3 separate regions of the Homo sapiens genome follow, and regions 1 and 2 are each linked to region 3. Evidence: fine-mapped expression QTL. A gene starts in region 3. Each other region holds a variant in brackets. All regions are shown on one strand. Distances are between the middles of the regions.

Region 1 (6,172 bases), 350 kb after region 3:
CCGGTGGGCAGCAGGCAGTGGGACCCACAGCTGGCCTCTGCTCCTCCATTGCTCTTTCGGCCCCAACTCTTCCCTTCCCAGCTGACCTTGGCACCCCGCTTCCTGCCAAACGCCCTGATCAGTGTGGACTTTGCTGCCAACTATCTCACCAAGATCTATGGGCTCACCTTTGGCCAGAAGCCAAACTTGAGGTCAGAGGTCGGGGGTGGTCAGGGCTCGGGCTGGGGCAAGGGGAGGGGCTGAGGTGGAGGCTGCCATCCTGTGTGAGGCAGAGACAGGTCCCGAAGGAGGCCCTGCACTCAGGGCTGTGGTGGAGGGACACCCAGGGGCCCTAACAGAGGAGGACAACTCGGGCCAGGAGGTGAGGACAGAGAGTGTTGTCTACAGGAATTGTGGTGAACCAGTGAGGATGTCCCCACTTTCCCAGCCCCTGGGGAAGGGGAGCATCTTTCAACAGGCAGAACTGCCCTTCGCTGAGCTGCATTGGGAGGAGCAACCGCCCCCCAGCATAGGTGTGCGAGAGAGCAGTGTGGTGCAGGCGGGGTGGGGGGCTGCCGGGGAGCCGCCTCCAGGACAGTTTGGGGGCTGGACAACCCCAGTGCCCTTCCATCCCTGCGTCTGCCATCTCAGTGACTCTCTCCATCTGTCTGAGGACCCAGGACCACTGTACACGGCCCCATCCCACAGACAGAGGCTCAAGACGGGCCACACAGCAAAACTGAGCTGTGTCTGTCACAGATGACCCTTGTTCCTTGTCTTCCCTCCTTCTAGTATGTTGGGTCCACGAGGGCAGGGTCTGTCTCATTGGTCATGTCCACTGTTATGCCCTCAGTCTAGAACAGCTCTGGCATCTCATATATATATTTATTTATACACCTTTTATATATATATGCATATATCTCTATTTAATATATTATATTACATAATATATTAACTATATATTTGCTGAATGGATGAGGGCCACCTCCTCTGAGACAGGCCCTGTGCTGGCACTAGGGCCAAAGAGGCAGGCAGAGATAGGCCCTGTGTTTAGGAAGTCCTAGGAACTCAGAGCCAGGCTGCGTGGGGTTGACAGGCAGGGATGAAGGGGCCGCGAGTCAGGCAAGGACTCCAGGGCTGAAAGGGTCAGGGGTCAACTGAGACCTTGAAAGGCGTGGAGGGGCCTCTGCCAGGGGTCAGGAAATCCTATTTCTCCCGCTAGCTTATGGGACCACCTGTGGTGGGGCACGGCCCCTTCTGGTCCTTGGTTCTGTCAGCTGTGTAGGCAACATCTGAGGTGCTTCTAACTCTGTACCCTTGAGTTTGGATGGAAGGAGAGCAGCCTGGGCAAGGGTTTAGAGGCTCACCAGTTGAGCTGGCGCAGGGCCTGGGGAGCCCAGGTGGGTGAGGACCTGTGCCTTGACCCCCAGGTCTGTGTACCTGCACAACAACAAGCTGGCAGACGCCGGGCTGCCGGACAACATGTTCAACGGCTCCAGCAACGTCGAGGTCCTCATCCTGTCCAGCAACTTCCTGCGCCACGTGCCCAAGCACCTGCCGCCTGCCCTGTACAAGCTGCACCTCAAGGTGGGCAGGGGAGGGGTAAGGAGGGGCACAGCAGACCCCACAGCCAGGGCACTGGGGCAGGGGCCTGCAGGGGAAGAGCTCAGGCCCACATGGCCACAGGTGCTGCCCAAGTGGGGCCCCGGGGCTGACAGCAAGGAGTCTACTGTGGAGAAGTGGGCAGAAACCCGGGCACCTGGCCAGTGGGTTGTGTGTGGCGTTGGTGGCCCCACACCTGGGTTGCTTCAGGTCTGGGTGCCTTCCTGGTGGCTTCCCAGACTCCTCTCCACACCTCATCCCGAGGCCCTGACCTTGCCCTCGGCCCTCCCTCACAATCTCCTCCCTTCCCTTCCATCCCCCAGAACAACAAGCTGGAGAAGATCCCCCCGGGGGCCTTCAGCGAGCTGAGCAGCCTGCGCGAGCTATACCTGCAGAACAACTACCTGACTGACGAGGGCCTGGACAACGAGACCTTCTGGTGAGTCCTTGTCTCACCAGGTCCTTGGCGTGACCACGGGGCCCGGGAAGCTCCTTCAGGGCCAACCATCCAGCCCAGCCCAGCCCCTCACGCACGTCCCCTGCCCACCTTCCCTGGAGAAGGAACTTTAAGCCTTGTGCCTCTGTTGACATTTCTGTCCCTGGGAACAAGGACTATGTAGAAGTAAGGCCTTCCAAGATTCCAGTGAGGCAAAGAAGCGTTGGTGGAGGCTGGCTTCTTGGTGCGAAATACAGACTCGGGCATTCTTGCTGAAGGCAAATGCATTTTCATTTTTCTAAGGGACCAGGGTAGCCATAAAAGGCTATCAAAAGGTTAAATAGTGGTCTTCAAGTAAACTCCTGTGTGTCAGAAAATGCCGGATCCTTCCTACACCAGAATATCATTGAGTCAACCCAAGGAGCAAGGACTGAGGGCCCACAGTCAGTGAGCAGCAGAGCTGGGAGGAGCTAGTGGCAATTCCCCAGCCACATCTCTTGGGAATCATGGTGGAAACGAGCACAATGTGGGCTCTTGCCAACCGTCCTAATTCCCTCCCTGCCCCAGGAAGCTCTCCAGCCTGGAGTACCTGGATCTGTCCAGCAACAACCTGTCTCGGGTCCCAGCTGGGCTGCCGCGCAGCCTGGTGCTGCTGCACTTGGAGAAGAACGCCATCCGGAGCGTGGACGCGAATGTGCTGACCCCCATCCGCAGCCTGGAGTACCTGCTGCTGCACAGCAACCAGCTGCGGGAGCAGGGCATCCACCCACTGGCCTTCCAGGGCCTCAAGCGGTTGCACACGGTGCACCTGTACAACAACGCGCTGGAGCGCGTGCCCAGTGGCCTGCCTCGCCGCGTGCGCACCCTCATGATCCTGCACAACCAGATCACAGGCATTGGCCGCGAAGACTTTGCCACCACCTACTTCCTGGAGGAGCTCAACCTCAGCTACAACCGCATCACCAGCCCGCAGGTGCACCGCGACGCCTTCCGCAAGCTGCGCCTGCTGCGCTCGCTGGACCTGTCGGGCAACCGGCTGCACA[C/T]GCTGCCACCTGGGCTGCCTCGAAATGTCCATGTGCTGAAGGTCAAGCGCAATGAGCTGGCTGCCTTGGCACGAGGGGCGCTGGTGGGCATGGCTCAGCTGCGTGAGCTGTACCTCACCAGCAACCGACTGCGCAGCCGAGCCCTGGGCCCCCGTGCCTGGGTGGACCTCGCCCATCTGCAGGTAAGCGGAAGGGAGGGGGCTGAGCCATGCCCATGGAGGGGGGTACTGGCATGGCTGCCCTGAGCCCACCTGTCTGAAGGGTGAGGAGAAGGGCTGGGTGGTGAGGGAGGTTCCTCTGGTATGGCCAGGCTGAGCTCATTCACCTTCAGGTATCTGCTGGAGATGCTGGCTAAGGCGAAGCTAGGCCTTAGGGGAGGCAGGAGGTGGGTCAGGCAGAGGGTGTGGCTGGCATGCCAGGGTGAGCCCAGCCCACCTGCAGGTACAAGAGTGAGGGGCAGAGTACAGGTGGTATGACCGAGCTGAGCTCATCACCTGCAGATACAGGTTTGAGAAGGGCTGTGGAGGTAAGGAAGGTCATGGCTGCAGGTAGGGGCCCTAGGCTCAGGAGGACCGGGGGCCAGTTCGGGTGGTATGTATGGGAGAGTCAAGCTCACCCCTTTGCAGGCACAGGAGTAGGTATGTGGAGAAGGCTGGGCTTTGGGATGGGAGGCAGAGGGGACAGCCTGAGCTGTGGGCCCACCTCACCAGTCTGCAGAGGGCTGGAGGTGGGGATCTACTCATGCTTTCTGAGGCTGGCCAGTCGATGTGGCTGCTGTGACCACATGGTCAGAATTAGGCAGGGATGCCTGGGCACATAGTTCACTTTGGTAACAAAACCCCCAACTCAACCAGTGTGGGTGAAAGAGAAATCCACTCTATACGCTGGCTCATGCCTGAATCTCAGCAGTTAGAGAGGCTGAGGCAGGAGGATCACTTGAGCCCAGGAGTTTGAGGCTTGCCCGGGCAACATAATGAGACCTCATCTCTACAAAAAAATAAACTTAAAAAAATTTAGCCCCGTGCAGTGGCATGCATCTCACCCTGGGGGGCTGAGGTGGGAGGATCACTTGAGCCTAAGGAAGATAGAGCTGGCAGTGAGCTATGATCACGCTACAGCACTCAATCCTGGACGACAGAGTGAGACGCTGTCTCAAATTAAAAAAAAAAAAAAAAAAAAGGAAACTCATCAGAGAACCTGGGAGGGAGGGTGGGGTGCTGCCAGTTTAGGCACTGCCCAGTGGCTTCAGCGGCTCCCTGTGGGAACCCACTTTCCTGACTGCCCTCCCCTGGATGCCAGGCATGTGATGATCTGAGACAGAATGGCCTGGGGCCTGGCTGTTGTGCTGGGGTCACTGTGGGTCTCACACCGTTGCTCCTGACCTCTGCACGTGTGGCCCCTGAGGTCCATAAGTGAGCAGTCCCACTCAAGCAGCTCCCACTGCACCCATCCAGGGCCAGTGGGGTGAGATTCAGAGTCTGGGGGATCCCTGGGCTCTGCCCATTTGAGATCTTTGGGAATGACCAAGTCTAATGGGAATGACAAGTGTGTCAGGAGATAGGACTGTGACACCCAAACATCTTGGCTGTGGGTTTATGTGGGAAGGCACAAGAAGCTGGGTAGGACGTTCATCAATTAGAATAAGGGTTTGGAGTCAGGCACACCCGGCTACAGCCTTTTATAGGTTATGTGACCTTGGAAAGATCACTTAACCTCTCTGAGCCTCTATTTCCCAATCTGGGAAGTGGGGATAATTATAGACACCCCCCCTCCTCCACACAGGGTTATTGTTAGATTTAGATAGGCTGGGGGCTTGGTGGGAGTTTTGTAAGCTGTTAAGTGCTTTGCACAGGTGGGAGTCCCTGACTCCCTTGGTCACCCCTGCAGCTGCTGGACATCGCCGGGAATCAGCTCACAGAGATCCCCGAGGGGCTCCCCGAGTCACTTGAGTACCTGTACCTGCAGAACAACAAGATTAGTGCGGTGCCCGCCAATGCCTTCGACTCCACGCCCAACCTCAAGGGGATCTTTCTCAGGTAGGAGCCCACTCGCGGCCCTGTACACACCCCCGTGGGGCCCACCCTGGCTCCAACGGGACAGTTGATGCACGTGGGAACAGCTTGGCTCCACTGCTGCCTGTGTAACCACGGCTCAGATCTCAAGGGTGGGGACAGTCCTGGCCAGGCCCGATATGGTTCCTAGGTTTGTAAAAGGGCTTTGGAAACGTTAGAAGCCAGTGCGCATGGGCGTTGTGAATGTTACTGTGGCAGAAAGGATGCTGGACAGCATCTTCCTGGTTTGCAGCTGAGAGAGCTGAGGCCCTGAGAGCACAGGTGACTGCTGTGTCTGCAGCCATCCAGGCTGGGTCCGGGCCTCACACTCAGGAATAGATGTTCAGGCCCTCCCTGGCTTCTGGGGCTAAGAGATGGGGATTTGGAGTGATTCGGGGGATGCAGCTCCCTGAGGATATGAGGGGCTTCCATGCAGCAGAGCCAGGGTGGTTCTTCCCAGCACTTCCCACAATCCCTGCCCCCAAATCAGAGAGAAGGAGACAAGGCAGAGATGAGTGTGCTCCCAGGAGCTCGGTTGCCCAGAAAGCCCTGGGCTCGATGATATCAGGGTGGCTTGACATGTGCCTCAGGCATCTGCAGGGTAGCTGAAGCACAGAGAGTGAGGGGCCTGAGATCAGAGCCACAGCCTCCACCTTTCCACCCCTGAGTGTGGCCCTGGCCTGGCTCAGCGCTGGCCTTGCCTTTGTGCCACTCCACATCAGGCACTGCGGTGACCCCTGGCTACCGCAGCCCAGGAGCCTCAGGCCTTGGGGTTAATGCCAGGGATGGCATAGAGACAGCTCCCAAAGTTGTGGCTTCCAAAATAGCAGTGAGAGTGTGCGCAGAGAGAGACCCCTCACTTTGCAGAGACTGGCCCAGAGCCAGCCCCACCACAAGCTGCAGCTGCCCTGACCGGCCTGTACCTTCCATCATGTACTGCGCTCTCAGCCCCTGGCCTTTCCCGCCTGCTGCACCACTTTCCGGGAGGGCCATTCCCTCCCCTGTTACCTTCTGGAGAGGCCAGTCGGGGGAAGGGAGGGTTCCTTGGGGGTTGGGCTCCT
Region 2 (6,172 bases), 80 kb after region 3:
GCCTTGACCTGCCAGACTCAAGCAATCTTCTCACCTTAGCCTCCAGAGTAGCTAGGACTATAGGCATGTGCCACCATGCCCAGCTTATTTGTTTATTTATTTTTGTAGATTTGCAGTCTCACCATGTTGCCCAGGCTGGTGTCAAATTCCTGGGCTCAAGCAGTCTTCCTGCCTTGGCCTCCCAAAGTGCTGGGATTACAGGCATGAGCCACCACACTTGGCCTTGTGTTTCACTTTTATAATTGGTAAACCAGATCTCATTAAAAAATGTTATCAGACTGGACACAGTGACTCATGCCTGTAATCCCAACACTTTGGAAGGATGAGGTGAGAGAATTGCTTGAGCCTAGGAGTTTGAGACCAGCCTGGGCAACGAAGCACAACCCCATCTCTACAAAAAGTGAAATAAGAAAATTAGCTGAACATGGTGACATGTACCTGTAGTCCCAGCTAGTGGGGAGGCTCAGGCAGGAGGATCACTTGACCCTAGGAGTTTGAGGGCTGCAGTGAGCTGTGCTCATCCTACTGCACTCCAGCCTGGGTGACAGAGTGAGACCCAGTCTCTTAAAAAAAAAAGTCATTAACCTACAAGTGTTCTTAGAGTCTGTGTTTGATAGTTAATGATTACTACTTAAAGACTGCTTACGAAGGCCGAGTATAGTGGCTCAAGCCTGTAATCCCAGCACTTTGGGAGGGTGAGGCAGGCGGGTCACCTGAGGTCAGGAGTTTGAGACCAGCCTGCCCAACATAGTGAAACCCCATGTCTATTAAAAATACAAAAGTTAGCCAGGTGTGCTGGTACATGCCTATAATCCTAGCTACTCAGGAGGCTGAGGCATGAGAATCGCTTGAACCTGGGAGGTGGAGGTTGCTGTGAGCCGAGATTGCACCATTGCACTCTAGCCTGGGCAACAGGGTGAGACGGTCTCAGAAAAAAAAACAAAAAACAAAAGCCTGCTTACAAATCACATATTTCTTAACATATTGGATATGGATTAAAGTAAGCCCTCTAGGATTTTGAGACAAAGGTAAAGATCAAATGTTTTATCAGCTTAATTGCTGTAACAGGCAAAGTGTCTATGTGGCAAAAGCCATTTTATTTTATTTTTTATTTTTGAAAAAAATATTGGTCAGGTGCAGTGGCTCATGTCTGTAATCCCAGCACTTTGGGAGGCTGAGACAGGCAGATCACCTGAGGTCGGGAGTTCGAGACCAGCCTGACCAAAATGGAGAAGTCTCGTTTCTACTAAAAATACAAAATTAGCCGGGCGTGGTGGCGCATGTCTGTAATCCCAGCTACTCGAGAGGCTGAGGCAGGAGAATCACTTGAACCCGGGAGGCGGGGGTTGCTGTGAGCCGAGATCGCACCATTGCACTCCAGCCTGGGCAACAAGAGCAAAACTCTGTCTCAAAAAAAAAAAAAAAAAAAAAAATGGAACACTTTGCAAATTTACATGTATCCCTGCACAGGGGTCATGCTAATCTTCACTGTACCGTTCCAATTTTAGTATATATGCTGTCAAGTGAGCACAAAAAAGCAGACCTCTGCTCTCAAGGAATTAGATTATGGGAGGCATAGATTAGTGAGTTAAAAAATGTAAATTGGAGCTTGTTTTCCACATGCAAGCAGTGAGGAGATGGATTTTTAGGAAAGCTGAGGACTGCCATTTAAGGAAGACCTATCTGTTGTTGTAGCCTTCATTATATAAGGTAGAAAATGGAAAACAACCTAAATGTCCAGTAATAGAGGAATTATTAAATAAATTACAGCATTTGATTGTTTTTTCAGGGTTAATATGATTATTTGATACAGAAGTTGGCTCAGGTCATCTGAAACGGAAAGGTGAAATTTATTTTAAATATTTGTGGGTTGGGTGCAGTGGCTCATGCCTGTAATCCCAGCACTTTGGGAGGCTGAGGTGGGTGGATCACGTGCGGTCAGGAGTTCAAGACCAGCCTAGCCAACATGGTGAAACCCCGTTTCCACTGAAAATACAAAAATTAGCCAGCCGTGGTGGCCCATGCCTGTCCCAGCTACTCGGAAAGCTGAGGCAGGAGAATTGCTTGAACCTGGGAGGCAGAGGCTGCAGTGAACCAAGATCACGCCACTGTACTCCAAGCCTGGGCAACAGAGCAAAACTCTGTCTCAGAAAACAAAAACAAAACAAAACAAAAAAGACTTCATCTCAAAAAAAAACCTATATATTTTTTTAAATTTCCAAAGGAATACATGTTGTTATAACTAGTGAAACAGTGCAAAACTGTATTTAACATCCTTAAGGCTCTGTCTCCAACCTTTCGTCATTTTTATCTCCATGAAGTTATTAATATTAATATAACTTTATATGTTTCCTTCCATATTTTTCTCTGTTACCTTGTGATTAAATTTTTTCAATAATTTAATTTGAGATATTTATTCTAATTTAATTATTTATGGTCAGAGAATATGCTTTGTTTGGTTTGAGTCCTTCTGAATTTATTGAGACTTGTGAATGGCCAAGGATATGGTCTATTTTGGTAAATATTCCATGTACACTTGAGAGGAATGTGTATTGTCTTATTATTGGGTATAGTGTTCTATAAATGACAATCAGGTCACTGATTGTTAATTAGCTTGATTAATTAACACTAATTAATAATTAGATTGTACAGTGTCACAGTTGATACTGTACAATTCTACCACATCCTTTCTAATTTTCTGCCTACCTGTTCTATCAATTATTGACAAAGGAGTTTTGAAATCTCTGACTGTAATTGTAGATGTATGTTTCTCCTTACAGTTCTATCAGCTTTTTCTTCATGTATTTTGAAACTGTATTATTAGATGTATAAACATTTAGAATTATGTCCTCCTGTTTAATGGACTCTTTTACCGTTACCAAATGACTTTCTTTACCCCTGCTAATATCCTCTACTTTGAAGTCTGCTTTGATACTGATATAGCCATTTGTACTTTCTTTTGACTAGTGTTAGCATAGCATTTCTTGTTTTATCCTTTTACTTTTAACCTATATTTGTCTTTATATTTAAAATGTATTTCTTGTAGATAGCATATACCTTGCATCCTGCTTTTTCATCTAGTTTGAAAATATCTGTTTTTTATTTGGGGTATTTGGATCATTTACATTTCCTGTGATTTTTAAATTTTTTTAAATAATAAAAATAATAATTGTGTATGTGGAGTACAATGTAATTTTTTTTTTTTGAGACGGAGTCTTGCTCTGTTGCCCAGGCTAGAGTGCAGTGGTGTGATCTCAGCTCGCTGCAACCTCCACCTCCCGGGTTCAAGTGATTCTCCTGCCTCAGCCTCCCCAGTAGCTGGGATTACAGGCGCCTGCCTCTGTGTCCGGCAAATTTTTGTATTTTTAGTAGAGATGGGGTTTTGCCATG[T/C]TGGCCAGGGTGGTCTCAAACTCCTGACCTCATGATCTGCCCGCCTCAGCCTCCCAAAGTGCTGGGATTACAGACTCACGTGAGCCACCGCGCCCGGCCTTTTTTTTTTAAGTAGAGACTGGGTTTCACCATGTTGTCCAGGCTGATCACGAACTTCTGACCTCAAGTGATCCACCAGCCTCGGCCTCCCAAAGTGCTGGGATTACAGGCGTGAGGCACCATCCCAGCCCAATGTGATGTTGTGATGTGTTTAATCACTGTGGAATGATTAAATCAAGCTAATTAACATATCCATGACCTTACATACTTACTGTTTTTTGTAGTGAGAGCATTTAAAATTTACTCTTGGCTGGGTGCAGTGGCTCACACCTATAATCCCTAAATTAATAATAATGTATAGTTCAGAATTGCTAAGAGTACTTTTTTTTTTTTTTTTTTGAGACAGGTTCTCACTCTGTCACCCAGGCTGGAGTACAGTGGCATGATCTCAGCTCACTGCAGCCTCGACCTCCTGGGCTAAAGCAATTCCCCAACCTCAACTTCCTGAGTAGTTGGAATTATAGGCGCACACTACCATGCCCGACTAATTTTTAAATTTTTGTAGAGATGGGTTTTCGCCATGTTGCCCAGGCTGGTCTTGAACTCCTGAACTCAAGTGATCCACCCACCTTGGCCTCCCAAAGTGTTGGGATTATAGGTGTGCACCACCATAGCCTGGTGTCATTTTTCTTCAACCTAAAAGACATCCTTTAACATTTCTTACAGTGTGGATCTGCTGATGATGAATTCTTCAGCTTTTGTCTGACTGAAAACATCTTTACTTAACCTTTGTTTTTGAAAGATACTTTTACCAGGTATATAATTCTAAATTGACATTGCTTTAAAGATACTGATTAGCTTTTTTCTGACTTGCTTCTTTCTAATGAAAAATCTGATGTCATCATTATCTTTGTACTTATGTATGTACACGTTCTTTTCCTCTGGCTACTTTTAAGATTTAAGATTAGTTGGCCGGACACGGTGGCTCACGCGTGGAATCCCAGCACTTTGGGAGGCCAAGGCGGGTGGATCACCTAAGGTCAGGAGTTCGAGACCAGCCTGGCCAACATGGCGAAACTCCATCTCTTCTCAAAATAACAGAAATTAGCTGGGTGTGGTGGCAGGTGCCTGTAACCCCAGCTACTCGGGAGGCTGAGACAGGAGAATCGCTTGAACCCAGGAGACGGAGGTTGCAGTGAGCCGAGATCACGCCATTGCACTCCAGCCTGGGCAACAAGAGCGAAACTCCATCTCAAAAAAAGAAAAAAAAGATTTAAGATTAGTAACAATTTTGAATATTTGATTATATGTGTCTTGATGTAATTAACTTCATGTTTCCTATATTTGGGATTTATTGAGCTTCTCAGATATATAGGTCTATAGTTTTCATCAAGTTTGGAAAGTTTTTAGCCATTATTTCTTTTTAAAATATTTTTGTACAGATGGGATTTTGCTGTATTGTCCAGGCTGGTCTCAAACTCCTGGCCTCAAGTGATTCTCTCACCTTGCCCTCCCAAAGTGCTGGGCTTACAGGAGTAAGCCACTGTGACCTGCCCATTTCCCTAAAATAAATTTTGCAGCCCTTTTCCCCATATTGGAGTCCTTTGGAGACGCTAATTTGCACATGTTAAGCTGCTTGACATTGTCCCACATGTTACTGATGCTCTTTAATGTTTTTGTTCTTTTGTATTCTGTGTGTTTCAGTTTGGATAGTTTCCCTTGCTATGCCTTCAGTTCAATATTTTTTTTCATCTGCAATATCTAATCTGCTACAATGCCATCTGGTAGATTTTTTCATCTTAGACATTGTCATTTTCATCTCTACAAGTTCAATTTAGGTGTTTTTTGTATCTTCCGTGTTACTACTTTTTGAATATATGAAATAAAATTTTAATAACTCTTTTAATATCCTAATCGGCTAGTTTTATTTAGTATCTGTGTCAGTTCAGGGTCAATTTCAAGTGATTATTCTCCTCATTATGAATTATGTTTTCCTGATACTTGGCATGCTTAGGTTTTAATTTACTTTTTAAAAAATTTATTATGTTTTAAATTGTGGTAAACAACGTAAAATTTACCATCTTAACCATTTTTAAGTGTATTGTTCAGTGGTATTAAATACTTTTATAATGTTGTAGAACCATCACTACCACTCATCTCTGTAACTGTTTTCATCTTGTAAAACTGAACGTCTGTAACCATTAAACAATACTATTCCATTCCCCCATTCTGCAGGCCCTGGTAACCACCATTCTATTTTCTGTCTCTATGATTTTAACTCCTTAACTACTTCATGTAAGTGGAATCATACAGGTGATCCGCTTGCCTCTGCCTCCCAAAGTGCTGGATTACAGGTGTGAGCCACCGCGCCCGGCCACAAATATCTCTTTTAAGACTCTACTTTGAATTTTATGGGGTATAGTTCCAGAAATAGAATTACTGTATCATGATAATTCTATTTTTAAATTTTGAGAAACTACCATACTGTTTACCACAACAGCTCTACTGTTTTACATTCCCACCAACAGTGTCCAAGGGTTCCGATTTCTCCACATTCTCACCGCTTGTTATTTTCCTTTTTTTTTAATAGTAGCCATTCTAATGGGTCTGAGACAGTATCTTGTAGTTTTTGTTTGCATTTCTCTGATGATAAGTGGTGTTGAGTATATTTGTATGGGTTTATTGGCCATTTGTATGTCTTCTTCGGAGAAATATCTATTCAATTCCTTTGCCCATTTTTAAA
Region 3 (6,172 bases):
AGTGATGTTGGTAGGTCAAGTAACACGAGGACTGAGAATTGACTGGTGTCAGCAAATGGACACCACTAGTGACCTTGACAAGGGCATTTCAGTGGAGTGGAGGAGGTAAAAGCTTAACCAGAGAGGATCTCACCGAAAATGAGAAAAAGGAAGTCAAGGCCAGGCGAGGTGGCTCATGCCTGTAATCTCAGCATTTTGGGAGGCCAAGGCAGGCAGATTGCTTGAGCTCAGGAGTTCAAGACCAGCCTAGGCAACATGATGAAACCTCATCTCCACAAAAAATACAAAAATTAGTTGGACGTGGTGGCACATGCCTGTAGTTCCAGCTACTTGGGAGGCTGAAGTGGGAGGATTGCTTGAACCCAGGAGGCTAAGGTTGCAGTGAGCTGAGATCGCACCACTGCACTCCAGCCTAAGCAACAGAGTGAGACCATGTACAAGCCACCTTTGTGAGACATTTTGCAGAAAAGAGAATGGAGAAATGGGGCAGTAGGTGGGGGGTCAAGTCCAGTCAAGAGAGGGTTTTTTTTTTTTTTTTGAGGTGGAGTCTCGCTCTGTTGCCCAGGCTAGAGTGCAGTGGCGTGATCTTGGCTCACTGCAACCTAAGGAGGGTTTTTTTGTTTGATTGTTTTAAGATGGAAGAAATAAAATCATGTTGCTATAGCAATGAGAGGTAATAGCAGAAAAATAGCGATGTAGGTGAGAGGAAGAATTGCTGGATAGGTGTCTTTGAGAAAGTGACGTGGTATGAGACCTAGTACTTGAGCTCCTCAAAGTGTCATCAATGGACTAGTGACCATCTAGAAATGGTTTTTCACCAGTTTGTGACAGCAATTCAGAATTAATATTTTGAAACTTTTATAACAATTTGACAGAAAAATGTTACGCGTGTTGGGTTTAATAATAAAAATTCTGCCTAGAGTAGTCAAATTCATAGAGATAGAAAGCAGAACAGTGATGGCGAGGGATTGGGGGAAGTTAGGAATGGGGAGTTATTGTTTAATGAGTACAAGCTTTCAGCTTTGCAAGATAAAAAAGTTCTGGAGGCCTGGCACATTGGCTCACGTCTGTAATCCTAGCACTTTAGAAGTCTGTGGCAGGAGGATTACTTGAGCCTAGGAGTTTGAGACAAACCTGGGCAACACAGTGAGACCTTGTCTCTACAAAAAAAAAAAAAAAAAAAGGTAGCCAGGCGTGGTGGTATGTGCCTGTAGTTCTAGCTGCTTAGGAGGCTGAGGTGGGAGGATCGCTTCAGCCCAGGAGTTTGAGGCTGAGTGAGCCGTGATTGTGCCACTGTACTCCTGATGGGTGACAGGGTAAGAACTTGTCTCAATAAATAAATAAATAAATAAATAAAAGAAAAAATAAAAAGTTCTGGAGCTTCTTGATGGGGATGGTTGCACAACAATGTGAATGTATTTAATACCATTGAACTGTACACTTTAAAATGGTTAAGCAGGTTTAAAAAATCTGGGCTTGCATTTTGGATGCTTGTTTTTAAATTTTAATTTTTTCTAGTAATTAATTTTGATTGTATTTTACAGAAATTTAGTTTTGTGATTGGGGATAAAATCTGGGTCTTTTAGCACAGATGCTTGAGAACTGAGGAGGATTTGATGTTAGCTAAAAGACAAATAATTAACTTGTAGTAAGGAAAGGAAGGCAGAGAGAGCATCAAAGCAGAGTTACAGGTTCGTTGGAAGTCATGGTGGGTGCTGGGAACTTGTAGATGTTCTTTTTGGTTTGTTTGATTTTCTTGTGAATTAGAAGCAAAATCATCAGCTAAATGAGATGAGGGAGGAAGTGTCGGAGGTTTGAAGAGACAGGAGACTTGAAATAGTTATGTAGCAAGGTGGGAGAGTGTGTGAAACTGGAGAAATGTGGTAGGGTAGCCACTCATTATGGCCTCTTGAGAATAATGATCTCAAATTTACGGGGAGTCAGTCAACCACTTTTGGCTTTTTCTCCACCCACTCCATTGCTGGAGTTCTGTCAGTACAAAGAAAGCAGAGAACGACTAGAGAAATGAAGGTAATACTGAAGAAATCGACTTCATGTACCTCATGTACTCACTTTCTTCCCCAAACAGCTTAGATTCTATTAGATTCCATTTCATGACGGACGATAGAATCTAAGCTGTTTCAGGAAGAAAGTGAGTACATAAGGCCAGCGTGGGGAGGAATAGCGAAAAGGTAGTTGGATCAATGGATTTGGGGTCTTGGAGTTGAAGTTTTTGGAGTTGGAGTATTATCAGACAGAGTGAGCTAGAAAGGAAGAAGGTTGTGGCCGGGCGCAGCGGCTCACGCCTGTAATCCCAGCACTTTGGAAGGCCAAGGCAAGCGGATCACCTGAGGTCAGGAGTTCGAGACCAGCCTGGCCAACATGGTGAAGCCACTTCTCTACTAAAAATACAAAAATTAGCCGGGTGTGGTGCCGGGTGTTTGTAATCCCAGCTACTCGGGAGGCTAAGGCAGGAGAATCACTTGAACCCGGGAGGTGGAGGTTGCAGTGAGCCAAGATCGCACCACTGCACTCCAGCCTGGGCAACAAGAGCGAAACTCCATCTCAAAAAAAAAAAAAAAAAAGAAAGAAAGAAAGAAAGAAAGAAAGGAAGAAGGTTGCAATGGGAGTTAGAGGATTAAAATTGAGATTGTAGAGAAGTTACAATTATTCGTATGAGCATGAGAGTGAGAGGCTGAGCCAAGAATGATCCCTAGAGAAGAATCTGAGAGGCCAGAGGATTGGAAGAATTAAGCGAATTTTGAAATAACCAAGAGTTATGACAATAGTAGTAATGAATGACAGTGAACCAGAAGCCCAAATCTTAGAGAATGATGGTGAATGACAGAGGAGTCTATAGGTGACCGAAGTGAGCGATGCTCTAATCTCTCGTCATGATGTAATATTTAAAGCTTTTCATATTTTGAAGGGATGCTAGGATTTGGGGGTGTGTGGCTCCTTTAAGGGCCTGGGAGGGGGAGAAGCTGGAGGTCGGGCTGGGGGGGGCGGGACCCCCTCGTCTGAGTCTGCGCATTGAGAGCGGAGGCGGGTCCAGGCGCGGGCTCGCGCGCCCGGGCGGGTCCTCGCGGGGGCGGAGTCTGCGCTCTGGTTCGGGCTGCGGCTGCGGCTGCGGCTGCGGCTGCTACTGCTACGCTCCTAGCTTGAGGGAAAGAGGCCGAGGCCTGGGCCAAGCCCGGAGCCGCCGCTCGCCGGAGCCTCCTGGAGCCTCCGCGCCGGCTCAGCCTGGGGGCGGGCTCCGGTCCGGCCCGCCGCCGCACCCAGGACGGAGGCTGCATGCCCGAGGACCAGGCCGGCGCAGCCATGGTGAGGGAGCAAGGCCTGCCCTAGCCGCAGCCGCCCGCCACCCTAGCCCCCGCCCGTCGCGCTGGCCCCTGCGGTCTTGCCCCTCCCTGTCTCTGGTGTCCCCTCGGGCTCCCTGCCTTTACCTCTCTCCCTCGTTACCGCCCCCTCGGTGTTCAGCTCCTCCTTCCCCATTCACCTGCTTCGGTGAACCCCTTTAGGTGACACCCCCTGAATCTCCCTTCTCCCCGATGACATCCTTTTTATCACCCCCAGTGACAGCCTTTTTCGCATTCCCTTTGTCGCCCACTCCTTGTCCTTTAACCCTAACCCTTCCTTTCTTTCTCCTCTATCATTTTGCCTTTTTTCCTCTTATGTGATTTTTACTTTCCCCCCTTTCCTCCCTAGTTTTCGCTGCTCTTCCTTGCTCTTCTCACCCCTCTTCACCATTTTATCTCCACTGCCCCCTTCTCTCCGTGTTCCTTCTCCCCTTCGTCCTCTTCCATCCACGTTTCCTCTTCCCTTATCGGATGTCCTCGCTCGGTTCGCCGTCGCAGCTGTCCCCATTTCCTTCTACGGGCTTCAGGGGTCTAAGCAGGAACAATTTGAGGACTGTTGCTTCCCGGGAGCTGTAGGGCGGGCAGATAGGGATTTATAGGTTTGCTTCTTCCTTTTCGTTTTTGGAGGCATTGAAGAGATCCTGGAAGCCTATTCACCTAGTGTCATTGCAAAATCGAAGTGGTGGTGTGTTACAGAGCAGTGAAGTGAGGGCCAGCATGCATACTGTGACCTCAGGAGAGATCTAGTCTTTTGACAGAAATAGCTAAAAAATGTTTTGAATTTTTTTTATTTTGAGCATCTTTTAATGTGGAGGTGCAGTTGGAGAAGTTTAAAAATACTTATTTACAAGCTTGGCTATTATTACTAAAAACAAATGATTTGTTTTCATTTGGAGGCAGAGACCAAGGGCATTTGAGGACTGACAATCAGGTTGGCAGGTTGTGACAGTCTCTTTAAACCTTCTAAAGAGTTCATTTGTTTTGCCCTGTCTGCCTTTAGTTGGGAGAACCTTATATTTGCAAATTTTCTTTCTGTCTGAAAATAGGTTGAGGCTTCAGTTGGTTTTTTCATTGAGTTGGGTTATAAGTGGTTTGCTGTACATTTATTGAAAACATTGCTCCATCATATGCAACAAGCTAAATTTTGGTCTCTGGGAGGAATAAGGCAAAACTAAGTCCTGATAATTATGTTCCCCTAGGAGGTTAGTCAGTTTCTTTTTTTCCCTCCAGCAGTTTTTTAGAAAAGTAATATACTATAAAATTATTTAATCTATGAATTTTCCCTAACTCACTCCTGCATTTTTAGTCTGTCATTTTCCTGTGTTTGTCTCCTTCACTTTCACACACTGTTGTTGTATGCTAACCTGTTTCTCCCTGTGGAATGTAAGTTCTAGGTAGCAACCGTTCCTTACTTATTATTCCAAGTGCCCAGGCCAGCTAGGTGCTTGAATGATTCACTTTATGGTCTCATTTCCCACCTGACTAATATAAACTTAAACTGAAATTTGAGGTAACTAGTGGACTACACAGAAAGAGTGAGTTTGAGAATTGTTGTTTGGAGACGATCTTGCTCTGTGGCCCAGGCTGGAATGCAGTGGCACAATCATGGCTCTTTGCAACCTTGAACTCCTGAGGTCAAGTGATCTTCCCACCTCAGCCTCACAAGTAGCTGGTACCACAGGCACGGACTACCGTGCCCCGCTAATTTGTAAAACTTTTTGTAGAAATGGAGTCTTGCTGTGTTGCCCAGTCTGGTCTTGACCTCCTGGATTCAAGCCATCCTCCCACCTTGGCCTCCCAAAGTGCTAGAATTACAGGCATGAGCCATCACGCCTGGGCAGAGAATCTTAATTTTGATGCAAAAATGATATTGAGTGAGGTATGATGATATACTTTTCAGAATAAAGAGCTATCCTACCTAAGACATTACACTGCTAGATTTTTGAAAGTGTGGGCCCTTCCATTGAGAATGAATGTATGAGAGGGAGGAGTTATGAACTCCCCTTTGAGGTATTTAGGATCTAAAAGTGTCCTTTGAGCTGGGCCTGAAAGTTGAATAGGATTTATATAGATCATTTTGGGAAGGGGAAGAATGCCTCATTGTGAATGTGAGTAGCAAGTAGAAAGGATCCCCTCACAGGGATTTTTTTTTTTTTAAGAAAGAAAGTAGGAAGGAATTAGGATGCATTGTAGGAAGTAGTATTACCCTTATATAGCATGGAAGGATGCAAGAATGGAGATGTGTAGTAGGAAATGAGGCTAGCAAGATACTGTCTTAGCCCATTCAATCTACTGTAACAAAATACCATAAACTAGGTAGCTTGTCAGCAACAGAAATTTATTTCTCAGAGTTTGGAAGGCTGGGAAGTCCAAAATCAGTTCCCCAGTGGATTCAGTGTCTCGTGAGGGCTCTTCCTAAGTCACCTTTTCACTGTTTTCACACATGGTGGCAGGGGCCAGGCAGCTCTCTGGAGTCTCTTTTATAAGGGCACTAATCCCATTCATGTGGGCACTAACTGGTGATCTAATCACCTCCCAAAGGCCCCACCTCCTCATACCATTACCTTGGGGGTTAGGATTCCAACATATGAATTTAGGGAGACAGAATTCAGACCACAGCAGACATATTAGGCATGATTATGTTTTAAACTTTGCATCTAATTAACTTGATTTTTCCTTGCTTGTTAAAACATATACACACAGAGTAACAGTGTATGTATGGGAGAGGTGAGGAGAAGGCAGAATATTAGCTTATTTTGAGCTAGGAATTATCAGTAGAGGCCACTTTCTCGTGCAATATTTTTGTAGATAAT

Evidence for each region. PIP is the estimated chance that this variant, and not a neighbour inherited with it, causes the effect. A credible set is the group of variants that fine-mapping cannot tell apart.
Region 1: its variant is the best candidate, but not a certain one, in a credible set for the expression of ZYG11B in anterior cingulate cortex (GTEx, PIP 0.57).
Region 2: its variant is the best candidate, but not a certain one, in a credible set for the expression of ZYG11B in whole blood (TOPMed, PIP 0.65).

What each region holds. Positions count from the first base shown.
Region 1 is chr1:53,075,781-53,081,952 of GRCh38, forward strand. PODN (podocan) reads left to right here. Exons shown (of 11, transcript NM_153703.5): 5 at 82-191; 6 at 1,410-1,566; 7 at 1,905-2,020; 8 at 2,585-3,242; 9 at 4,948-5,096. Among named protein-coding and RNA genes, the nearest start is that of PODN, 17 kb to the left of the region's middle. RefSeq lists enhancers at 5,378-5,929, 5,930-6,172. The variant C/T (reference allele first, on the strand shown) is at 3,061.
Region 2 is chr1:52,803,682-52,809,853 of GRCh38, forward strand. All of the region lies in intron 10 of ZYG11B (zyg-11 family member B, cell cycle regulator), which reads left to right. It also overlaps the pseudogene RNU6-969P. Among named protein-coding and RNA genes, the nearest start is that of ZYG11A, 36 kb to the right of the region's middle. The variant T/C (reference allele first, on the strand shown) is at 3,391.
Region 3 is chr1:52,723,360-52,729,531 of GRCh38, forward strand. ZYG11B (zyg-11 family member B, cell cycle regulator) reads left to right here and starts at 3,094. Exons shown (of 14, transcript NM_024646.3): 1 at 3,094-3,324. The coding sequence starts at 3,295. RefSeq lists a silencer at 2,905-3,484.